Linked DNA regions of Homo sapiens: all the other regions are linked to region 1. The links come from fine-mapping of genetic effects on gene expression. A gene starts in region 1. Each other region holds a variant in brackets. All regions are shown on one strand. Distances are from middle to middle. Region 1 holds the start of UBXN2B (UBX domain protein 2B). Region 2 overlaps FAM110B (family with sequence similarity 110 member B). Region 3 overlaps FAM110B (family with sequence similarity 110 member B). Region 4 holds the start of CYP7A1 (cytochrome P450 family 7 subfamily A member 1).

The links. PIP is the estimated chance that this variant, and not a neighbour inherited with it, causes the effect.
Region 2: its variant is the best candidate, but not a certain one, in a credible set for the expression of UBXN2B in whole blood (TOPMed, PIP 0.61).
Region 3: its variant is the best candidate, but not a certain one, in a credible set for the expression of UBXN2B in whole blood (TOPMed, PIP 0.86).
Region 4: its variant is the best candidate, but not a certain one, in a credible set for the expression of UBXN2B in regulatory T cells (Bossini-Castillo 2019, PIP 0.63).

The regions. Positions count from the first base shown.
Region 1 is chr8:58,408,014-58,414,177 of GRCh38, forward strand. UBXN2B (UBX domain protein 2B) reads left to right here and starts at 3,348. Exons shown (of 8, transcript NM_001077619.2): 1 at 3,348-3,456. The coding sequence starts at 3,373. RefSeq lists enhancers at 3,344-3,403, 3,414-3,463, 3,744-3,793.
Region 2 is chr8:58,083,368-58,089,531 of GRCh38, forward strand. The region is part of intron 3 of FAM110B (family with sequence similarity 110 member B); the gene reads left to right. Among named protein-coding and RNA genes, the nearest start is that of FAM110B, 92 kb to the left of the region's middle. The variant A/G (reference allele first, on the strand shown) is at 3,228.
Region 3 is chr8:58,116,027-58,122,190 of GRCh38, forward strand. All of the region lies in intron 3 of FAM110B (family with sequence similarity 110 member B), which reads left to right. Among named protein-coding and RNA genes, the nearest start is that of FAM110B, 120 kb to the left of the region's middle. RefSeq lists an enhancer at 2,078-2,651. The variant A/G (reference allele first, on the strand shown) is at 3,462.
Region 4 is chr8:58,500,051-58,506,214 of GRCh38, forward strand. CYP7A1 (cytochrome P450 family 7 subfamily A member 1) reads right to left here and starts at 113. Exons shown (of 6, transcript NM_000780.4): 1 at 1-113. The coding sequence starts at 48. It also overlaps the pseudogene PPIAP85. RefSeq lists a promoter at 89-1,991 and an enhancer at 323-544. The variant C/CT (reference allele first, on the strand shown) is at 3,376.

The DNA of each region.
Region 1 (6,164 bases):
ACAGGCTATTACAGATAAAGCTTCTATGAACATTTGAGTTGAAATACTTTATAAATGTATACTTATATCCCTCTTGGGTCAATATTTAAGAGTAGAATTGCTGGTTCTTATGATAATGGAATATTTAACATTAGAAGAAACTGACAACCTCTTTTCCAAAGTGGCTGTACCATTCTAGGACCCACTAGCAGTGTATGAGAGTTCCATGCAGAAAGCCAAGGCAACAGCTACTCGGGAGGCTGAGGTGGGAGGATTGCTCTAACTAGACAGATTGAGGCTGCAGTGAGGCGTGATTGCACCACTGTACTCCAGCCTGGACAACAGAGAGAAACCCTATCTCAAAAAATAAATAAATAAAAATAAAGAGCCTGGGCAAATATAGTCACCTTGTTCGTTTTCCTTCTTTCAGATATCACAGACCTGTACTGCCTGTTGCTCAATGCCTTAAAACTGTTGTTTTTAGTTGTTAAGAGTGGGAGGACAAGTCCAACATCAGGTATACTGTCATGGCCAGCAGCAAAATCCACTTTGCGAACATCTTAAGAAATATGATGCCTGACTCCCACTCTATACCAATTATTAATAAATCTGAGTACCTGGAGACGAGAGAGAAGAGGTGATTCTAATGTACAAGAATGTTAGAGAATCACTGGCTCAGAGGATTCCATCCCCAACCTAAGGCAAGATCCTTCAGAATCTGTCTCAAGCCTCCATTCTACATCTGTCTCCTCCCCACCATTCCATAACCATCTTTTGTCATTTCTAAGTTGCAACCATATAGCAATTTGCTGACATGAATATAATATTTTAAATATCAGTGTCTTTGTAAATATCTTTGCCTTTACCAAGATTCTTTCTGGTCTAATACTTCTACTGGAAGTACTTTCCTTCAACACTCAGCTAAAATGTCTTTGGCTCTATGAGGCATTTCTTGTTAAAGAGCCCGAGATTTCTAGGGCAGAATCTGATGTTAAGAGAGTATCAGGAAAACAAGTGCAGTTTAGTATTTGGCACTGCCATTTACTACAGGGTGAAGTTAGTCTTCATCATCTGGTTTCCTCGGGTATAACAAGATAATCATAACTACCTGGTAGAGGGATAAATGAAATTACACAGGGAATGCACAGCTGGGGGAGAAAATTTTCTCCTTTACTCTCTCAGAGTCTCCAGCTGGGTCCAAGAATTAAACGGACACAAAACAGATTAACAGGGAAAAAGCATACAAATTTTATTTAATAAAACTTTACGTATAAGTGGGTGTCCTCACAGGAAAATAAACACCCGAAGAAGTGGCTAGGCCTAAGTGCTTATATACTAGGTTGAACAAAGAGAGGCAATCGTGGAAGAGTATCTAGGAAGATACTGGTTAGTTTAACAATATCTGTACAGATGTTTCTCGGCCTCAACTCCCCTTCTCTGGTGATGAGTATCTTTCCTCTTGGTATAGGGAGGGCATCTATCACATGGTAGTTTCTTTTCCTGCTTTCAGGAAGAAAAGGTCAGAGTGCTCTTCTTGCACCTGCTGTTTATCAAATGCTTTTTTTTGTTTTTTGTTTTTTGTTTTTAAGACGGAGTCTCTCTGTGACACCCAGGCTGAAGTGCAATGGTGCATCTCTGCTCACTGCAACCTCTGCTTCCCGGGTTCAAGCAATTCACCTGTCTCAGCCTCCCAAGTAGCTGGGACTACAGGCACGCGCCACCACGCCCAGCTAATTTTTGTATTTTTAGTAGAGACAGGATTTCACCACGTTGGCCAGGCTGGTCTGAAACTCCTGACCTCAAGTGATCCGTCTGCCTCGGCCTCCCAAAGAGTTGGGATTACAGGCGTCAGCCACGACGCCCAGCCTCAAATGCCTTTATACATCAAAACGATCAGTATGCCAAAGCTCGGGCGGCAAGCTGTCGACTCCAGCACCTAGCATGGTGCACACAGCAGATACCAACGGAGTATTTCCCCTCACATGGCTCACATTTCCTTTGTAACCCTCCCAAGCAAAGCTCTACTGCAAGCTGCATCTTACCCGTTTACATGTCTCTTTTCCCTACTAGACTGAGTTTCATAATGACTGGGACTATTTCTTTTTACCTTTGCATCCCTTGGGCATAAAAGTGCCTAGGAGGCCAGGCGCAGTGGCTCACGCCTGTAATCCCAGCACTTTGGGAGGCCGAGGTGGGCAGATCATGAGGTCAGGAGATCAAGACCATCCTGGCCAACATGGTGAAACCCCGTCTTTACTAAAAATACAAAAGTTAGCCGGGCATGGCGGCACGCACCTGTAGTCCAAGCTACTCGGGAGGCTGAGGCAGGAGAATTGCTTGAACCCGGGAGGTGGAGGCTGCAGTGAGCCGAGGTCGCGCCACTGCACTCCAGCTTGGGCGACAGAGCGAGGCTCCGTCTCAAAAACAAAAAGTGCCTAGGATAAGAAGACCAGAGTCTAAATCAATTTCAGTTGAATGACGAGGGCTTGATAGTCTCGAGATCTGCTTTTTTTCTTTTTTGAGACGGATCCTCCCTGTGTCGCCAGGCTGGAGTGCAGTGGCGCGATCTCGGCTCACTGCAACCTCCGACTCCCTGATTCAAGCGATTCTCCTGCCTCAGTCTCCCCAGTAGCTCGGACTACAGGCACGCTCCGCCACGCCCAGCTAATTTTTGTGTATATATATATATATATATGTGTATATATATGTATATATATGTGTATATATATATGTGTGTGTATATATGTGTATATATATATGTGTGTGTATATATATATATATATATATATATATATATATTTTTTTTTTTAGTAGAGAAGGGGTTTCACCATGTTGGCCAGGATGGTCTCGATCACCTCGTCCGCCTCGGCCTCCCAAAGTGCTGGGACTACAGGCGTGAGCCACAGGCCCGGCAGAGTTCTGCTTTTAGCAAATTATTCCAAGCACTTTTTACGGTGTTTTTCACTCTCAGTGCTAATTCACGCTGTGGTGACGATGTACCATCCAATCCTTGATAGGAAAGATCAGAGAATCTGACCAAGACTAGATGGAGAGGTTGCAATTTTTCATCAGATGAAAAATCCAGAGGATGTTTTCATTGTTGAGCTAAATGAATCTGCAAGTCTATGCTGCCCTCTAGGGCGGCCTACAGTGCCTTTAGGCGAGTAGCAGGAGCAACACAAAACTTAACAGAGGTTTCCCTGCGGAGAAACTCCCTTTAAGAAAAAAGGAGAAACCAAAAAGGTGGGCCAGCACCGGAAGCGGGGGCGCGGGTTCGGGTAGCGGGGACGCGCACGCACCTTGCGCGTCTTCGCCCCTCCTGCGGTTGCCAGGCAACCGGCCCCGGAAGTTGCGGCAGGTGCGTCCGCAGCGGGCGCCGCTAGCCAGCGGAAGATGGCGGAGGGCGGAGGCCCTGAGCCCGGCGAGCAGGAGAGGAGGTCTTCCGGGCCGCGGCCTCCGAGCGCGCGGGATTTGCAGGTGAGGCGAGGAGCCGGGGGAGGGAGCGCGGCGGTGGACGCGGGCTGGTGACGGCGCGGGCTGGTGCGAGTTGGAGGCCACCTCTGGCCTCGGCGGAGCCTTTCCCCGACCCCGTCTGGGGATAGAATCCGGCGCCCGGTCTCCCGATGTCGGGTCTTGACACTGTGGTGGTCGTGAACACAAGTGCCCAAGCCTCCAGCGCTGGTGCTTTGTCTCCCTTCCACCCCACGTATGATGTAAAAATAGCTATTCGTTTAGAATGACATTTTGCGGGGTCAGTTGGTCGGTTCACGGGTTGATGCTTCCTTCTTGAGACTTACTCCAGAAGAAAGGTTACTGTGGCCGCAGGGAAGTAGACAGTCACCTGAACAGTAATGATACGTGATTTGTTCTTTTTTGTCTTGGATGCTATTTCTGACTTGCTTACTTAAATATAAAAATGGTTCCATTTTATCAGGTAGGTTTTTCTTTTAAAGGGGTGAAGGAAAGCGATGCACTCTATGCCCATACAGCCTAGTTGTCTAAGCTGTGGTCTTTAAAACATTGCACTGAAGAAACTGGGAAATAAAATTTCGTAATGTTGTGTAGGACACTAGTATTAGTTAGCTAAATAGTAGCGCACCAAATCCCGTTTTATCAGATACTAACGCCACTTTTCTCATTTTAGGCGTTTTTGTGTCTCATTATAAGATTATTGATAAAAATTTGACAAGTAAATATCAGTAAGGAGATACTAAGGAGAATCTTGGTAGAACAGTTTTACTGTATTACTTTACAACCACACTTCATTCTAATGTGAACAAACCACCATCCATTGTAACATACTGCTGAGCTTTGCGAATGTGGAAATAAGGACATCAAATCCTTAGTCGGTGCTGAACTCTATTGATGGGTAGGTATGTAAGTGTAAAAGACAGTTCTACCTTTTGGAAGCCTACAGATTTCTTCGGAGAAATAGGGTATGAATACTTAGCATAACATTTTAAGATGGAGTATGATTGGGTGCCAAAATAAGCAGTGCATAAAGCGAAGAATTTGGAGGCTGGAGAGATCAGTGTAACATTAGGAGGTGAACTTAATGTAGAATAGTTCCAGCTCCCATAGTTGGTTCAGTAGTAGTAAACAGTATCAAGGGATAGGAAGCTATTGTGTACCTCATCTTTCCTATTATAAACCCACATCACTAAGAGGCAGCATGGAGTTAGTAGTCCCACCAATTTTGGTTTGCCTCTTAGTCCTGCTACTTAGTAGTTTTGTGAACTTAGGAGAAATGTCTTAACCTGTCTGATCCTGTGTCTTCATTTGTAAACTGAGGAAGGTCAGGGTGCTGGTGGTGGTGTAAGGATTAAATAATGTTATAAAGGGCCTATGCAAAATTCCTACATTATCCTGGCTCAGTTGTTGCTGGGCAAATATTTGATTCCTTTTTCCTCAGGAGAAAGATGCTATAACTTTCCCTGGCTAGTCAATTCTAATATCATTAAAGTTAATAGAGTGTGTAACTTAATGTCCTTTCCCTAATTTAAATCCATTTCTTCTTTTTATGTGAAAAGTGAGAACAGCTTGCTTAATGACCACCTGATTCTTGGCAAATTGTTTGCAGTCTTAATCCAGTGGATCAAAGTACGATTAATGTTTGGAGATACTCTGGTAGATGTTGCTAATTGTGAGAATGCCTTCATTTCCACCCTAAGTTATGATGGGGATTTTTTTTTTCATCTCCTGTCTACTTGTTGTAGGTTAGGGCAGTAGGAAGATAACTGATTTCTTTATGAATGTGATTTGGTGTATCAAGTACAGTATCTAAGTATTGATAATCTTTCCTTTAGAACTTAATATGAATGTGAAGAACTTGCAAAGAAACTTGAAAACAGCCAAAGGGATGGCATATCAAGAAATAAAGTATGTATCAAAAGTTTAAAAGAATTAAATAATGTTCTTCCCAAATGGTACCTTGGATATTGATTATTTATAGATTATCTTGTTACCGTTTAATCTAGACATGCTTTTCTTAAGAGTTACGCAGTTCGTGCAGCTTTCAGTAGATATTTCTTACTTCCCTAACAGCTTGCTCTAAGAGTCTTTCAGAGTGAGTAAAGGGGCAACATATTACCAATTGGAACAAGCAGAATTACCCCTGAGTAAGTGTATCTTAGCTGCCATGCAGTGTAGGGTTTGTCAGCATCTGAATCAGGAGGGAGTGTTCCAGGTACCACCAGAGAAAAGCTGCATAGTTGCTTCCCAAAAGGCCTCCCAGCCCTGGGAGCCCCCAGGTTACAAACTGCAGACTCGGAAATGTTTTTTTGCATATCAGAGTAGATTTTCATAGCTCCCTTCATCCCCCTCAAATAAGGAGATGGTCATGGGGAAAGTTAGGGGTGGGATTGTTAGTGGCAAAACTAAGCCCAAAACCTCACCAGTGTTCAATAGTATTTCTGAATTGCTTTCTCTTCTGGTGTCCCTCAGCCCGCCACACACATGTTCATTAAGGTATTTAGTTGTATACTCTGTCCCAGTTTTCCTCCACATATTATCTGTTTCTACATAGGTTGGACGGGGAGGGAGTGGGAACAGGGATAACTTCAGTATTGTTAGGGTTAGGATTGGATTTGTTAGGATGGACTCAATAGTGGGTACTATAAATGAGAAGAATTAAAATGTCTGATAGCTGTTCTGATAACTGTGTTGCCACAAGTACCCTAATCATA
Region 2 (6,164 bases), 320 kb before region 1:
TCAAAGTAAGGAATAATCAAGGCGTAATTAGCTTTATTCAAAGGCTGCTTGAATTTGGTCTCCTCAACTGCGTTTAAAATAGGGTTTTGTTTCTAGAATTCAGATTACATAGTTTATTTATTCATTTTTTAAATTTTGCTCAAATTGATTGTTCCCTGTGGACTCACAGATTCAATATTCAGAGATTCAATTATTTGTGATTGTCTCCACGTTCACTACTTGTGTTAATTCCGCTATTTCGGGGAAGTGGCACCTTTAAAAGCCCACACTCCAGGGCCAATGAAGAATACAGAATGCAGGCCACTCCCACCATCCACGCCTCCCCTGGGCTTCGTGTTCTGTATGTTAATTCTCTCATCATTTGCTGTTCCATTAAAAATTACGTATCCAGTGTCTAGTTTGCCTGGGGGTGAAATGGGGATTAAGAACCTTTCCCACCTTGAGACACTGACATTCTTGTAAAGGGATAAACACTCTATATTTGAAAAATCATCCTAAGAAGAACAGTAACTAGTAGTGCTGGAGTTGGAAGTGAAGAAAATGTGAGGAGATCCAAGAAAATGATGAATTTTAGGCAGAACTGAAGCTCTGGGTACATAGGAGAGTACGGCTAACTCCTGGTTGATCCGGATCAATGGCATATGAGAGAATCCACCACAGAACTGTGTGTATTTGAATCTTTGGTTCAAACTAGCTCACCATATTAGTGGTCTGTCCTGTGTATCTTCAGAAGTTACAAGGCTGTCTTTCCTGAGGTCAGCAGGCTACTGAATTGTGCTTATGACCAAGACCTTGCTGGCTGCCATCTGAATCATATATAGTGGAGGAAAAAATGAGTCAGTAGAAGGTATGGATGGTGTACACCTCGCTAAAGAGAAGATGAACTATAATATTTTCAAGCATCATTCTAGTGATTGTTGGCCTATAAGTAGTGTTTGATTTTAATTTCATTTCTAATTTATGTGGTTCTATAAAATTCTCTATGTTTTCCTTCCTTCCAGCAGTGGACTTGAATCTCCATTTTCCTTTTTTTTTTTTTTTGAGACGGAGTCTCACTCTGTCACCAGGCTGGAGTGCAGTGGTGTGATCTTGGCTCACTGCAGCCTCCGCCTCCCTGGTTCAAGCAATTCTCCTGCCTCAGCCTGCCAAGTAGCTGGGACTACAGGCACTCGCCACCATGCCCAGCTAATTTTTGTATTTTTAGTAGAGACAGGGTTTCACCATGTTAGCCAGGATGGTCTCGATCTCTTGACCGTGTGATGCTCCCACCTCAGGCGCTCAAAGTGCTGGGATTATAGGCATGAGCCACCGTGCCTGGTGAAATCTCCGTTTTTTAAACATGATTTTTCACTGGAAGTCTTACCACCATGTACACCTTAAACTCTCCATCCCCAGATAGAATGGGTTGTGAAGCTTCACTCTTTACCTATTCATGGGGATTATGTCCCTAGAGGCTGCTGTCAGGTGCCAGCAGGGATTTTATGGATCATTACCAAGGAAATGATGGTAAATGTCCCCACCGAGTGGCATTGGTTTCTAAGCATAGTACAAGGAGTAGGTTGCACCCTGCACCTCCCAGGACTTTCCCTCTGGACACTGTTTTTACAGAGGGTGTTAGAGTGGCTACACCGAGGCACAGGATGCTAGGGCAGTCAGAGTAGGGATTGACGCATCACTCTCTGAACCTGGCAATTGGCATCAAAAACAGGAGAAAAAGCAGGCTTCGTTTTCATTTACTCTCCTAGTTGTATTTGTGATTCAGCATTCCATGCTGTATTGGTAAAGGGAAGAAATTACTTTTTGTGGGGGTCATGCCCCCTTCCTTTAATCAACTGAAGAGTCTTGTAAAGCTGATGCACATGTAGGCAGGCATGGTGGCCCACACCTATAATCCCAGCCCTTCAGGAGTCCGGGGCAGGCAGATTACTTGAGGTCAGAAGTTAAAGACTAGCCTGGCCAATATGGTGAAACCCCATCTCTACTAAAAATATAAAAATTAGCCAGATGTGGTGGCGGGTGCCTGTAATCCCAGCCACTCGGGAGGCTGAGGCAGGAGAATTGCTTGAACCCGGAAGATGGAAGTTGCAGTGAGCCGAGATCGCACCACTGCACTCCAGCCTGGGTGACAGAACGAGACTCTGTCTCAAGAAAACAAACAAAAAGTTGATACACTTCTAGATTTAATTTAAGATTTTGACCATTGGCCTATGAGCCAGAGAGATGTTTGTATTGAACTTGGGCCTGAAAAAGTTTCACATTCATTTTTAGAGTATAAGGAATGCTGGAATACCTCTGGCACATTGATTTATGAAACATTTTAAGATCATGTTCACTTTCTTCTCCACCAGATATCTATTTTCTCTACTTTGAACCCCCCACAGATGACCCTGTTATGAAGTGTGCTGCATATGAAGTTTTTGCGGGGTGGTTTATCCCCCACTGCAGTTCTTGGGCACTGGCCATTCACACACGGAGCTCTAGCCTTTAGGGGCCAGTGCTCAATTAAAAAATCAATGGAATTAATATAAACCTGAGTAAATTATCAATGGGAAAGTATGATTTAGCTTACAAAATTAATTTGTAACTTTCCAAAATGTTTTCTGATTGGTGAAGCCAACTTCCCCAGAAGTAAAACTCCTTACGACCTCAACTCAATACCTGATACCTGGTTCTCACTTGACTGGCTTATAGGAGGGGCCTAATAAATGTGGCTAAAATGAAATTAACGCTGTGTTCATCACCTATGTACAGTGGTCATGTTCATAACCGAATCTGCAGCTCTTCTAAGGTAGTCTCCAAGAGGGTTAAGCCAAAGTAAATTGCCTCATTTGGAGCCTTTGAGAGCATCTCTCTTACTTTTAGCAGTCTTTGGTCACTACACATTAGATTAAGATGCTAAGTATAATAAAGAAAAAATTATATGAATATATGACTTTAAATCTACCATTAAGAAACAGGAAATTAAGAGATCGCTTGAAGACATTTTATGCCAAATCTGCAACAATTTTGAATTTCTTATTATATTTTATTAATAATACTTCATGTTATACATGTTTATAGTATCTTATTAATTTTAAACTCCACTATGTTTAAAACCATTTTATGATTATTAGACCCTTTCATTCAGTCAGTATCTTGTTTTTCAGACGACTGAAACCTGGCTTTGAAGTGCTACCTGAAGTGTTCTTAAGTCTCATACTGAGAAGTCACCTCTTTATTGGCACTTA[A/G]CGTTACGCATAAATAGGACCACTGTGCACTTCTTAGGACATTCCACAGAGAGTGCTACTTCTGTTGTAAATTTGTGCAATATTGCTCTCATATGTAAAATACTCTACAAACTGCCACCTTTGCAAAGTTCCCAGTCCCCTCACTTGTCAGTGATGGATGGTGATGCTTTAAGGGTCCATTTCAATAGAGGTATATTTCCCCCAGTAAAGACAAAGGAATGTTAATGGGCTAATAGCTCCGTACTGTCATGACTGACTTATGTGATATTGCACAAGGTGAGGACAGTGGAGCTGGTATTTTGTTTGGCATTCACCAGGCACTTCAGCCCTTTAGTGCATCATCTCCCTTCATTCTCACAACAGATAGTTGATGGGACACATAGCACGTGATCATGGGGCTAGATCTGAGCTCACACCATACACCGTCTGGTTGCAGATCTGTGCCTCTAAACAGTCTTGCCAAGTGTCCAGTGTGCTTTAGGTGCCAGGTGCTTCACAGACTTCGGAGGTAAATATTTTCCTACTATTTAGAAGTCATGTTTTTTCAGCACATTAGATTTTCTGAAGGTTTCTCTGAACAAAAGAACTTGCTGCAGATGCCAACCAAGATTCCTCCTCAGGGGTGTTTACCATGTAGTAGTGCCAAAGAAACCAGCGCTGTGCGTCACCTTCTACCTTATCTAGAGCCCTGGAGAGGTCACCTATCTGTCTGTGACTTAGATCGGTGGGCTTCGCTTCCAGTTCTCTGATTTAAGGCTTCTGTTAGAGCAGCAGCTGTAGCAATTTGCTTTTTGAATAGGCATATACATTTCACAAGCACTTTCACTTCAGCGGCCTGGAGGGGTGGAGTAAACTGTTATATCAGCTTCATAGATGAGGCAACAGAGCATCAGAGAAAAGGGACCTCTCAAAGCTACATGGGTCATAACTGGAAAAGCCAGGATACAAGCTCCTCTGCCTCATTCGCCATCACAACTCCAAAACTTGACCTCTCTCTCTGGGGCCATCTCCTCATTGGCTCATCGGCAGAATGAATGAATTGAACTCCAGCAGTGATTTTCAAACCCTGTTCCCTGGAGTATTAGTGGTTTCAAGGCTGATGGGGATTGAGATTTGGGTCTCTCCTTTAGCCAAAACCACTCTGCATTCATCTATTTTGCATACCAATGTTCCACATTGTCTTTAAAGAAAGCTTCTGTAGTAAGAAAATACTTTGAAGATTACTGATCCTCAAAGTTTTTATTACATTCTAAACTTTAACCTTTAGGGGCCAGTGCCCAGTTTAAAAATCAATTGAACTAATATAAACATGAGTAAATTATCAATGGGAAAGTAAATTGGTCTTACAAAACTAATTTGTAACTTTCAAAAATGTTATCTGTTGGGTGAATCCAAGAGGCTTCCCCAGAAGTAAAACTCTCTAGGACCTCAACTCAATACCTGATACCTGGTTCCCACTTGACTGGCTTATAAGAGGGGCCCAGTAAATGTTGCTAAAATGTAATTAAAAGAAAAAAATTTATTTTGATAGTAGTTTTAAGTAACACACAGACTATCAAAATGTATTTATTTTACACCTGTTGTAGTATGCTAGGATTATAAATATTCTACAATTAATTTTAAAGGACAATCACAATTTTAGTTTCTCCATTGAACTTTATTTTGCTTCATTCATATATATATTCAGTGAGTCTTCCCTCTTACCCAAGTCTCTCCATAAATGTCTTCATTATTTTACTGACTTGATGAATTCCCAGTTCCAAATGACGCTTCAAGTCATATATCTAGTTTAAAACTCCTGCAGTAAAATAACATTTCTAGACAGAATTCTGAATTCAACGAAATGTGTTTCTTTCTCTATAATACATTGTCTGTGTTATCTTCATTCTTGGAAGAGATTTGAGTAGAAGGATTGTATATGCTTCTTTTTATGGGATGCTATGAATATGAATACTTATTTAACAAACCAAATTATATTTCTCTCATTCCCCAAACTTTAGAAAGTTCTATGATTTCAGTTGATGGCACACACTAGAATTTGTGTAGAAGTTACAAGGAAATGGAGCCGCACTTGAGAGTTGCACCTTCATCTTGGGTTCAGCAGTGTCCTTAGAGTGAAAAGAGGGTGGAGGAGTTCTAACTGCATTCCAAGACCAAGTGATATTCTGTCCAAAAACTATCAAGGACAGACTTCTCTGCTTTTAATACTAGCTTTTTGATCAGAGGGCTCATGGGGTGCAACATGTACACCAACTTGCTGCCTTGTAAACTTGATCCTTTGTAAATCTGTGACATTTTTCCTTGTTACAAGAGTTTTATATTCTCATGTATATAAATACTGCCTTTGACAGGATAAGAGACTAGTGCCATGAATATTCCTTTAGCAGTGGTAAAAACTCTGCAATAAAGCTTTGACGTTTTAAGATGACAATCAAATGGTCCAACAAAGGGCAGGAGAGGCTAAAGTAAAAACCTTCACAGATGAATGGTTTTATTTCACATCAACTCTATGGTCTTAATGCTGCCTATCGGAGGCACATTTTTGCATCAGCCACATGAATTGGTGAACTTTAGTGTATATGGATCATAAAGTATTTCTTCACTTGAAGGTCATCTGTGGCTAAGCTGTAATTTCTGCAGTTCTGTGAAAATTAGCACTCTCTATCAACCTTGTCATTTGAATTGGGGATCTTTATGTAGATGTTTGATGCTTCTATTTCACTGCTGCTTTCCCTCTGCTATAGTGCTTAAAACAAATGGTGTCAGATTCACTCTAATCTAGTTTTGTGGTTTAATTTACTTGTGGGTGCCTTGGTTTTGTGGGTTTTGCTTTCCACAAAAAGATGTAATAGAATCTGATCTCACAGGCATTACCTTCTACACCCAAGGGCTTTTTCCCTCCCTTGTCACTTCTTCCCTATTAGCAGACATCATTTT
Region 3 (6,164 bases), 290 kb before region 1:
CCTGGGAATGCAGAACACAAAACAGATCAAGACTGCTTAAATACTAGTATGGAAGACATACATACGTACATACATACATGCATGCATGCCTGGTAACCAATTGGCTGTACTTTTAAAATATATTCAGAAAACAACCAGCTTTCACCACTGCCATCATGGTTCAAACCCCTCGGATCATTGCATTAGCCTGTTAACTGTTTCCTGCTTCTGTTCTTCCCTCTTGCAGTCTTTTCCCAACAGAGCATTCAGAAAGCTCCCTCTAACCCGTGAGTCTGAGCCCTCTCTCCTGGATGCAAAACCTCACAGTAGAGTCCCATTCTCCTTGAAGACAGCCATGGTCCTTGACAGGTTGTGTCCATTATCTCTCCATCTCCTTCCTCCCATGCCAGCCACACCTGTCCTCCAGGCCTCTGCACTTGTCTTTCCCCTAGCATCTCTGTGGTTACTCCTTTACCTTCTTCATAACTTTGCTCAGATATCCCCTTTTCAATGAGGCTTTTCTTATTTGACAGATAGAACAATGCCTGAATAAAGAAGGAGCTAACCCACCTATTTCATATACAAATATGCCAACCCTAATATTCAGACCAGATATATTTCGTAATACTTTTAAATCTTCTGTAACACATCTGTGGAATAAGCCTATTTTGAAGTTCTTGGGAGTCCTATTTCTCCCAGGCACTGAAACTTGAATGTGTCATGATAGTAAACCAAGAGATTATAAATGAATGAACATTCAGTTTCCAGGAAGAGATTAAAAAAAAGACAAGTAAATTACCTTATTTGTTTTGTCCAGAATGTATTCCATTTAAGGCTTATAATTCTCAATTCTTGAGGCTGGAGAACAGATTGTAGAGCATCAGGAATGGTTTGCTAACTCAAAACCATTTCAAGCTTCTTAACGCGATGCACACAGCATTTGGGGGCTGCCTTCAGGAGTATAAGCCTAGCTGCTCCCTCGAGACCTAAAGAAAGCAAGTGAGAAGGTGAGTGCATATCTCAGGATCTGACAGGATGGCTGAAAGCAAAGAGCCTCTATTGTGGCAGGTTTATTTTATAGCATTTTTGTGCCGATCTGTCCAGAATCCCTTAACCGGTGTGAGGGAAAAATCAGTATTATTAGGTAAACCAATTAGGGAATCTCAGTGAGGTATTTTTCTCTGAATCTAATAAAGCAGAAGCTAACTGAGCTCTACCTGAGAACAGTTGATGTGATTCGATGTGGTGCTTTCTTGATGGCAGCTGGACACAGATACTTTATTCTAATTTACATCCCAGTGGGATGACCCATGAACCAGTATTCGAGAAAAGAGCCAGAAGAAAACTGCAGAAAAAGCTTCAGAAACCTCAGCTTTGATACATAAGCACAGAGCAACAGAACTACTGCCAAAAGTGGGGATGGCAAATTTGGGGGAGGCTTTAACCTCTCAGCACCTCAATTTCTTCCTTGGCCACATGGTAGTCATGAGAAGCATCTATAGTGGAGCCAGCCTGCCTTGTTCAAATTCCAACTCCATCTCTCTCTAGCTAAGGTAGAGCGAGGGTTTTCTTGGGTAAAGTATTGAATGCCTTAGCATCTTTGGGCCTCATTTTCTTCATTTGTAAAATGAAGGGTAGTAATAGCCCCTGCCTCATAGAGTCATTGTTAAGAGTTAATATGTTCGTATTTGCAAAATGCCTTAGAGTGGTTCTGGCACATAGTAAGCACGGTCTGAGTGCTATTTCTATAATCATTATTATTATGTAGTATGTGCCTAATGAATATGTACATAAATAAACATAGTCTATAACCAGAAGGCATTTTTGCAATTTCTTTATTTAATTTGCATTAAACTTAATAGAGTGGAGACTTAGTTCTCTGTTAAACTCTTTCAGAAAACTAACGGACATTAAATACAAGACAGCATGTTTAAAATTAAAATTAAGAAGTATCTGTCTTTATAGATAATTATACAACACTGTCAAATCAGCTTCCAGAAAATATCGGAAAGATTCTAGAGTAACATCTTTGGATGTGAAAAAGATAAATCCTGTGTTCACAAATGTCATTAGCTTTATGTTTAGCTTTAAGTTTTAAAAATGTTTACCCCATTGTCATTAATCTCTTTATTGATAATAATGCTATTTCCATAATCCCAAGGGACCCAATTCAATATATTTCTTCTCTTATTTCTCCTTTCTCCACTGACCTTGTTCTGTGACATTACTTTCCAGACATTTGTTGAATGAGCATGGTCTGTCCTGGAAATGCCAATGCAGATTGATACAGCCAGAGATTAAGCCTCAGTCAGGTCTCAAGAGCCAGAAAGCTCTGCAGATTTACTAACCATGAGAATGGAAACTAGCCGCATTCCAGGACATTAGGATTTCACTCTTCCCATCCCAAAACGGGTTATCTTTTTTGAAGGGGGTAGGGGAGACCAAATTTCCGGTTGGGTCTGGGTGCTTACCGGAAGATTAGCGGTGGGAAGTTTCTTCAGACTAGCTTAAGTAGAAGGCTTAATTGCAGATGCTTACTTCTAAGGCAGGGTGGGGCGTGGTACCTGGGGCTGAGCTGCTGCTGCTTCCAAAGTGTCTGTGCTAAGGAGACTGTTTACCTTCAGTGCCTTCACACTTTTAGTTACAAAGCAGCAGCACCTTGTAGCAGCATCAGTTGTGAGCATCTTCCAGGCCACTTATGGATTAAAAACTCCAAAAATCCCCTTTTGAAACCATAAAAGCACAGTTTGAAAAGTACCTCATTCTTAGTGATATAACTTCAGATGTTATTTTGGTGCAGCCTGGGGAACACTGTTTGCCTGAAACAGGTAGCAGTCCTCATAATGATAAGTTTAAAAAGCCACTCAACCATATTCGTGCTGCTGGCCTTACAGTCTCATTTTTAGATTCTTGTTTTAACATTGCCTACAGACATTATTCTTATATTACTTCAAACATTCAGAACTAAAATTATTCATGATTTTCTGAAGAAATGAGATAATGGCATCCTTTAGAAACCAAAAAACAAATACTCTGAAAAGTACCTGTTCACTTGCCCCTTACTGGAGGTGGCTGGACTGAAATCCAGAATGGAGCCAACCCAAAGCAGGCAGCATTCCTGAAGAAAGTTCGTGTGCATGCCCTCCCTTTTCTCCCCTCATAACTTATTTTCTCTTAATTTGAGTTTAGAGGGTAACTTAGTCTGAGCTGCTATAGCAAAATACCTTGGACTGGGTAATTTGTAAACAACAGAAGTTTATTTGCTCAGTTCTGAAGGCTGGAATGTCCAAGTTCAAGGCACCAGCAGATTTGGTGTCTGGTGAGGGCTCCGTCCCCACAGATGGTGACTTCTTGCTATGTCCTCGCATGGGGGAAGGGACAGGCACACCCCCGTAAGCCTCTTTTATAAAAGGGCACTAATCCTATTCATGAGACTGATGCCCTCATGACCTAATCACCACCTAAAGGCTACACTTTTTAAT[A/G]CTGTTGCACTGGGGGTTAGGTTTCAACATGGGAATTTTGTGGGGGACACATTCAGACCATACTAGGGAGAAATAGTGGTGCGTAAATTTATCCTTGTGACTGAAGATCTAATATTCCAAATAACTTGGTTCTAACTGGCAAGGGTACTTATAGTCTTGTTGCAATCACTGTAGGATATATCCAGACCCCTCTGATAGCTTTAGTTCTTCCCACTGACCTGTCTGCAGAGATTCTTCAGGGTTGTACTGCTTCCCAGGCTGGCCTGTGGAAAGAGAGTATATGACCACTCTGCTTGTGGCAGTTCTTTGGTACTGACTGCACTCGGCATGCCGCTAAGCGCTCTCTTCAGATTATCTCATTCTACATCCTCAACAATCTGGTAAGGTTGGTTATTATCATTGCTCTTTTACTATTGAGAAAACCAAGACTCAGGTTTGAGTAAATAACCTGCTTCTGGGAAATGTAGCCAGTAAGCCACAGAGCCCAGGGCCAAGCCAAGGTCGGTCCGACTTCCAAATTCATACCTTCAGTCAACATTTGTACATCCCAGAATCGTGTCCTGGACTTAGTGACTCTGAGGACACCTTCCTCAAGGGCACATGGTTTCTACCTAGAGTGAGGAAATATGAACCACATGGCTGGAGCATATTTAAAGAAGATAGGCAAACTATGTTTGCACATAATTTTTTTTTATTATTTCAAATACCTGGTCCACAGCGTACAGTTTTCTTAATGAGATTGCTTTAGGAATCCCTCTTTATGTAGAAAGAGTGTTTTTCATCTTCCTGATCTAGCCCCTCTCATCTGAATTATCCACTGAACTATCCACTTTTTCATCTTCCTGATCTAGCCCCTCTCGTCTGAATTATCCACTGAATTATCCACTTTTTCGTCTTCCTGATCCAGCCCCTCTCATCTGAATTATCCTGTAGACTGTGGCACACTAAGGAATAATGGAGAATGTAGGAATAAGAGAATAACTCCACCAACAGCCATTATCTACCTGGAGAAATTCCAGGCAGGGCATTTCAGGAAGTACCTCTGGTATTTCAACAGGTGAACATCTTTCTGTGTAATTTATTTTTGTGTTGGAACACGAGCTTATGGATTGCTGGATCCCATCCCAGAAGTGGCTACCCCTCCACTGCAGATAAGAATAAGAGCTCCGAGGGTGGGACTGTCAGCCCATATTGTTGAGGTTTTGATTTATTACCCAAGAGTTGTGTTCTAAAGATTCCCTCATTTAAAGTACATGCCTCTGGGATCCATGAAATTCCCAAGGTGGAGAAACAAGAATGGATGTAACTAGGCTAGATGGAAGACTGGGAGAATAGGTGATAGTTACTGAAAAGCCTGGCAGGGTTGGGGCTGGCATCAGAATCCCCTGAGGCCCATTCCCTCCCAGAGCCAACATCCAAGCAAGGCGGAGTGTCCCCATAAGAAACATGGGAGAAACATGCCACTCCCTTCAGTTACACCCTTTGTTCTTTCAGTCATTTAAATATTTGAATATAAAGGGATGTAACGGTGAATAATGGATGCAGTGATGTCCTCTGGAGCTTGCTCAGTTCCAGTGCAGGAGACAGACAATAAATGTAGATTTTAGTCAGTGGCAAGTTCATGCAGAAAAATCAGCACTGTAATAGGATGAGGCGCGATGAGCCTCCAGATGCTGTGTGGCTGCTAGGTCTGGGGAGGTGCCATGCAAACAGGGAAGCCAGAGGCCCATTGATCTCTGTTGTCCACACGCACCACTGTGGATGCAGCTTCAATGGTCTCACTGATAGAACAACATAATAATGCTTTTGATGTATTCTCCTGTGGGTCTCAGAAGTCTAGTAGAGCTCATGAAAGTAAAGAGAAGTATTTGGGTTTCAGTCAATCTTAGCTTCCCAGATTCCAAGCATCCATATGAGAATGCTTCATTTAGTAAGTTTTGAATCTATGAAATTTACTCTGTACTGTACGGAAAACCTGTAGGAATGTTTTAAACTCATTTTTTGTTTGTCTTTCCCCTTGAATTGCCCAGGGACTATGCCAGATAGCAGAAATTATATAACGTTGGGAGTCTTCATAATTAGTTTACTTTTTAAGTTAATTTTATTATGACAATGTAATATAGCTACACATTCTGCATAGTATCCTTTAACCATGCCTCTTTGCTTATAGACAAAGTCTTCTTTTTATAGAGTTAATGACCTCCTTTTTGTCTTTCGCCGTATTTTCTAATATATCTGGAGTTAGATTATTTTCCCAAATGTTCCAGCATTCCTGCCATATGCCTTTGAATAATATTTCATGTGTGCTCATACAGACCTCTTTCCTGTATCTCTATTCCAGGGTCATTTCAGGGCCAGTTGCCCTCTAAGCTGTTCCAACAGCTGCTGTGCTGTGACTTCTCATCAACAGAATGTGGGAACCGCCTTTGGCTGCCCTTCTGGATGGAATCCCCTCTTTTCTTGGATCTCATATCTCTTTCTTTGTAGGTTTATTCTCTCACCTTACTGAAGCACACCCTCTGTAAGCCTCCTAAGTAAAGGGGCCTGGAAAGTATATTTTTAATCTCTGCATATCTACAAGTATCTTTATTCTATCCTTCTGCTTGAAGAAGGATTCTCTGAGCATAAAACTGTAGGTTAATGATTATTATCTCTTAAAAATAATTTCCCTCAATTTTGAAGACATTAAATGCTCTTTTTAAG
Region 4 (6,164 bases), 92 kb after region 1:
ACAGCATGCTGCTATAGCAATCCCCCAAATCAAAGATGTGGTCATCATTTTGCAAATCTAGGCCAAAATCTCTGAGGAAGAAAATCTCTGATTAGAAAGGGAAGGATGCCACTGAAAAGAGACTCAAGCTAGGCTTTTTATATACATAGTATCCAGATCCATTAACTTGAGCTTGGTTGACAAAGCAAACAATTAGCCATTTGTTCATTCTATTAGAAAAAAAAAAGTGGTAGTAACTGGCCTTGAACTAAGTCCACAGGTATCAGAAGTGGTTCCAAAGCAATCAGAGACCTGCAATACTTGATAAGTTGAAGGTCTCTCAAATATATGTTGACTTAACATTCGGACCTGGGGACAACAGCTAATATTAAGAGTTTGGTATGTGTAAAAAGAACAAATAAACCTGTTTAAGATGGGCATAGCTAATAAATACATAAACTATAATCATTTAAAGAAAGATAAGAATGAGTTATTCATCAAGCTTATAATTTGGTCTTGTTAACTTTTAAAGAAGAATTAATTTAGGTGCTTTGCCAGAGAGACGGTGATCAAGTTCAGAGGAAAGAGAACTGGGAAAAACATTTCTGCTGCTTCATGTTTCAGTGCTTTTATAAAATCATAGATATTTTACTACATATAGTAACATGTTACTCACCTAACATCCTCAAGAGAGTATTCTACATAAGTGCATCCTCTAGATAAATATAACTTATTGGAAGCATCAAAATTTTATCTATCATTCTTGTGACTAAAATGTTTATCAATGTTTCTAATTATTAAAGTAATAAATTTCATTTCAAGTAAGTTAAGACTAACTAAAACATATCTTGGTGGAAAGTGAACATCTATTAATAATTTACCTACCATGCTACTCCTTTACTCAGAAGTAACCACTAGTAACAATTTGGCATCTGTTCTTCCAAACTTTATTTCTGTGTACACAAAAATATTAGTTGAGTATTTATTACGTGCCAAGAACTCTTCAAAAGTATTCCAGTTGCAGGCATTAATAAGATAGGCAGATTTCCTAATCTAATGGAGATTCTATTCCAATGGAGAAAGGAGTAATAAAATACATGTTATGAAAAAAATAAAACATGGTATAGAAAGCTATGGGGGAATGAGGACAACTTTAGATATGATGATCAGAGATGGGCTCTCTGAAATTGTGACATTTGAGATCTGAATGACAAGAAGAGACTACTCATGTGAATATCAGAAGGAAGGATATTCCAGGAAGAGGAAGCAGCAAATGCAATGTCTTGAGTCAAGGATCAACTTGGTGAGTCTAAGAACCAAAAAGAAGGATGTATCCTACTGAAGCAGAGTGAATGAGAGTTCACAGAATTAAGACAAAAGAAGGTAGGCAACAGTACTGTGTGTGTATATATATGTATATAAACACACACACACATACACCCACAGTATTCTCTATATTTATACATGTGTGTATCTATATGTGTGTATAAATAATTATATTGAATATGTGCTTAATCTTCCATTGGATAAATGTACTATAATTTATTTAACTGATTTCCTATTGATGGATATGTGGGTTGTTTCCAGTTTTGGCTATAGATGCCATAGATTTATTTCATGTGTTTTTTGTTTTTGCCTGTTTAAACAGAGATCACACATTTTTTGTGTGTAATTTATCACCATAAATATTAATATCAATCATTGTATGGCAGTACATAGATTTTTCTTAGAATCTAGGTTTTTGGGGGGCTTTGTGCATTTATTTAGACAGGTGGATTTTTAAAAAATTAATATATCTTTTTAAAAATATGGCTTATAGAAAAGCTGATCTTATACATGGACAATCACAGCAAGATATCCCAGTCAGATAAAATGCCAATCTAATATCCAAATAATACAGCCCTTTAGAGTTACTTCTCGGGCAAATGAAGAACAAGCAAATATACAAAAATGGAAAGGAAGTCAGGCATGGTAGTGTGACATGGTTTGGCTGTGTCCCCATCCAAATCTCATCTTGAATTCTCACGTGTTGTGGGAGGAACCTGGTAGGAGGTGACTGAATTATGGGTGCAGTTCTTTCCTGTGCTATTGTCATGATAATGAATAAATTTCATGAGATCTGATGGTTTTAAAAAGAGGAGTTTCCCTGCACAAGCTCTTTTCTTGTCTGCTGCCATGTGAGATGTGCCTTTCTCCTTCCATCATGATTGTGAGGCCTCCCAAGTGATGTAGAATTGTAAGTCCAATAAACCTCTTTCTTTTGTAAATTGTCCAGTTTCAGGTATGTCTTTATCAGCAGCATGAAAATCGACTAATACAGTAAACTGGTACCAGTAGAGTGGGGCACGGCTGAAAAGATAACCAAAAATGTGGAAGCGACTTTGGAACTGGGTAACAGGTAGGGATTGGAACAGTTTGGAGGGCTCAGAAGAAGACAGGAGAATGTGAGCAAGTTTGGAACTCCCTAGAGGCCTGTTGAATGACTTTGACCAAAATGCTGATAATGATATGGACAACGAAATCTAGGCGGGGGTGGTTTCAGATGGAGATGAGGAACTTTTTGGGAACTAGAGCAAGGGTGACTCTTGTTATGTTTTAGTAAAGAGACTGGCAGCGTTTTGTCCCTGCCCTAGAGATTTGTGGAACTTGGAACCTAAGAGAGATGATTTAGGGTATCTGGCAGAAGAAATTTCTAAGCAGCAAAGCATTCAAGAAGCAACTTGGGTGTTGTTAAAGGCATTCAGTTTTTTTTGTTTTTTTTTTTTTTTTTGAGACAGAGTCTTACTCTGTTACCAGGGCTGGAGTGCAGTGGTGTGATCTCGACTCACTGCAACCTCCGCCTCCTGGATTCAAACGATTCTCCTGCCTCAGTCTCCCAAGTAGCTGGGATTAAAGGCACCCATGACTATGCCCAGCTAACTTTTTGTATTTTTAGTAGAGACAGGGTTTCACCATGTTGGCCAGGCTGGTCTCGAACTCCTGACCTCGTGATTCGCCCGTCTCAGCTCCCCAAAGTGCTGGGATTACAGGCGTGAGCCACCACACCTGGCCAGGCCTTCAGTTTTATAAGGGAAGCAGAGCACAAAAGTTTGGAAAATTTGCAGCCTGACAATGCGATAGAAAAGAAAATCTCATTTTCTGAGGAGAAATTCAAGCCAGCTGCAGAAATTTGCATAAGTAACAAGGAGCTGAATGTTAATCCCCAAGACCATGGGGAAAATGTCTCCAGGGCATGTCAGAAGTCTTCATGGCAACCCCTCCCATCACAGCCCCAGATTCCCAGGAGGAATGTATAGTTTCTTGGGCCAGGCCCAGGGTCCCCCTGCTGTGTGCAGCCTAGGGACTTGGTGCCCTGTGTCTTAGCACTCTAGCCTGGGCCACATAGACAGACACCAA[C/CT]TTTTTTTTTTTTTTTTTTTTTTAAAGGGAAAGGGTATGGGGGAACCTCTCAGTACAATCTTAGCAACTTCCTGTGAATCTAAAATCATTTTGAAATTAAAAGGCTTCCAAAAATGGTAAATACATGGCTTTGCAGATGCTGATGACACCCGGAGCCCCCTGCTATCAGCCATGGTCAACTCCACTGTATTATCTAACATCTTGGGTCATGCCTTTTTTGAGCTGTTTGCAGACAGAGTTCCAAAGACAGCAGAAAACTTTCATGCTCTGAGCACTGGAGAGAAAGGATTTGGGTATAAGGGTTCCTGTTTTTACAGAATTATTCCAGGGTTTATGTGTCAAGGTGGTGACTTCACATGCCATAATGGCACTGGTGGTAAGTCCATCTACAGGGAGAAATTTGATGACAAGAACTACATCCTGAAGCATGCAGGTCCTGTGTTGTTCATGGCAAATGCTGAACCCAACACAAACGGTTTCCAGTTTTTCATCTGCACTGCCAAGGCTGAGTAGCTGGATGGCAAGCATGTGGTCTTTGGCAAGGTGAAAGAAGTCATGAGTATTGTGAAGGCCATGGAGAGCTTTGGGTCCAGGAAGGGCAAAACCAGCAAGATCACCATTGCTGACTGTGCACAACTCTAATAAATTTGACTTGTGTTTTATCCTAACCACAGACCTTGTGAGAGCACCCCTCCACCCCATTTGCTCACGTTATCCTATAATCTTTGTGCTCTTGCTACAGCTCCTTTGGGTGTTATATATTCCCTATTCCCTTCCATACCTAGCTGGATTGCAGAGTTAAGTTTATGATTATGAAATAAAACTATATAAAGCTAAATAAAAACTAAATAACAACTGTCAAAAAAAAAAAAAACTGTGAAATATATTCACAACCCTCCTCACCCCCTCTCAGAACATCACAAGCTCCTTTCAAATGTAGATTGGTCAGTGTTTATCTAGATTTCCTTTACCCTAATATTTTTACTCCCACACTTACAACCCCTCTTCTATACAACAAAAGCACAGGAAACATACACACCCAGAAAAGCAGAGTCTTAAATATTCATATTTATTCATTTTTCTTATTATACGTAGTTTATGTTTTTCCTTCTCAGGATGTCACTTCTTGCTGCTGTCATGTGTCCACAAATGGTACTTATCACAGCCCAAATGTGCTGCTTTTAATCCAACAGGTGGAAATTCATATGCTTGTTACAGCTGTCAAAACTATTAATAGACTGTAAGGAAATACTAAAAGATTTCCTGATGAGTGAATGGATTTTATGACAACTGGATGTGTTTTTAGCACAGCGCCTGGTGCATCAGTTATTGAATGAATGCTAGCTCAATGGCACGTCCTTTGCCTGCTTTTCTCTTCTCTTTTTTTCGGCTGGTAAAGTTTTATTTATTCTCTTTCTCTATGTCTCTGTCTCACCATCTTTCTCTCTGTGTGTCTCTCTTGTTTCTCTGTCTCTCTCTGTGTCTCACTCTCTCTGTCTCTCTCTGTCTGTGTCACACACACACACACACACACACACACATGCTGTACCTCTACTACATGCCAGGCTCTGAGTCAGCAGTGGAGACAATGTGAGCAAGAAAGCCCTGAGCCCTGGCCCTGTGGAGTTTCCACTGCGTCAGGAGAAAGCGTAAGTGCCCTGACAAAGAAAAGAGGTAAAGTTGCCAGAAAACCTGGCAAAATAAACTGAGTTCTAATAATAAACTAAATTCTAATCCCACCACAACCTGTTAGTTTCCTCTTGTTTACATAGAGTAGTGAAGAGGACCACACTTCCTAAAGTGTGGAAGAAATACTTATTCCGGGCCTCAGAAAATATAAAGCCTGAATCAAATATCTCAACCCCATGAATGGAAATATACAAAACATAGAAGCTCAAACCAGAGGAGTAGAATGTAAAAAGAACAACTAAAACTATGAGCTTATGTAAACCCACTATGGTTCAATGAACATAGAACACACACATCAGTTTGATTGCTTTAAATAAAATGAACTGAGAACATGGCCAAAAAATTGAGTCAAACCAGTTGCTTTCCTGAATTCACAAGTTAAACCACCTCTCTGTAGTGGGACACAGATTGCCTCAATTAAGAAAGCACTTTGCATTTTCCAAGAGCATCACAGAGCTGTACTGAATCAAGACTGTATATGAGGTTTCTAAGTCAGGGCAAAGTAATGGGAGTCTATTGTGGAATGGGCTGGTGAAGTCTTGTCGTGATTAATTTGGGGCTTTCATAATAAACACATTCGAGCCACATTTTCATGAAGCCATAGGGAAAGAAACCAGTTATGGCAAATACAAATATAGTTTTGCATCTTAAATACATGGTTTTGAGATTGTAAATGCCTAGCAGGAGTAGAGAAAAAGAAGGTGTTGACAAATTCTAAAGGAATCATCATAATTTTTACATTCATTTTGAGGTTTTCACATTTTAAAAGCTTCTCTTGTATTTTTCTACTTTAATGAAATAACTAACTTGGGCAGGACAGGTATTTTGACCATGTTAAAGATGAGGAAGTAGAGGCAAGAAGGTTCAGTGGGAAATATTACATAGCTTGAATTAGTTCGAATGGTAGATGAAGAGGAAGCTGCAATTAAATCTAGATTTGCATGTTGGCTTGGCCATTAAGTATTTACCTTTGAACAAGATGCTTTTCCTCTCCAAGTCTTTGCTTTCTTATCTGTAAAATGGGGATGATTATAGTGCATGACTCATAGATATTAAGACGAAATAAGACAATGTGTGTAAGACAGTTAGCCTAGCACTTG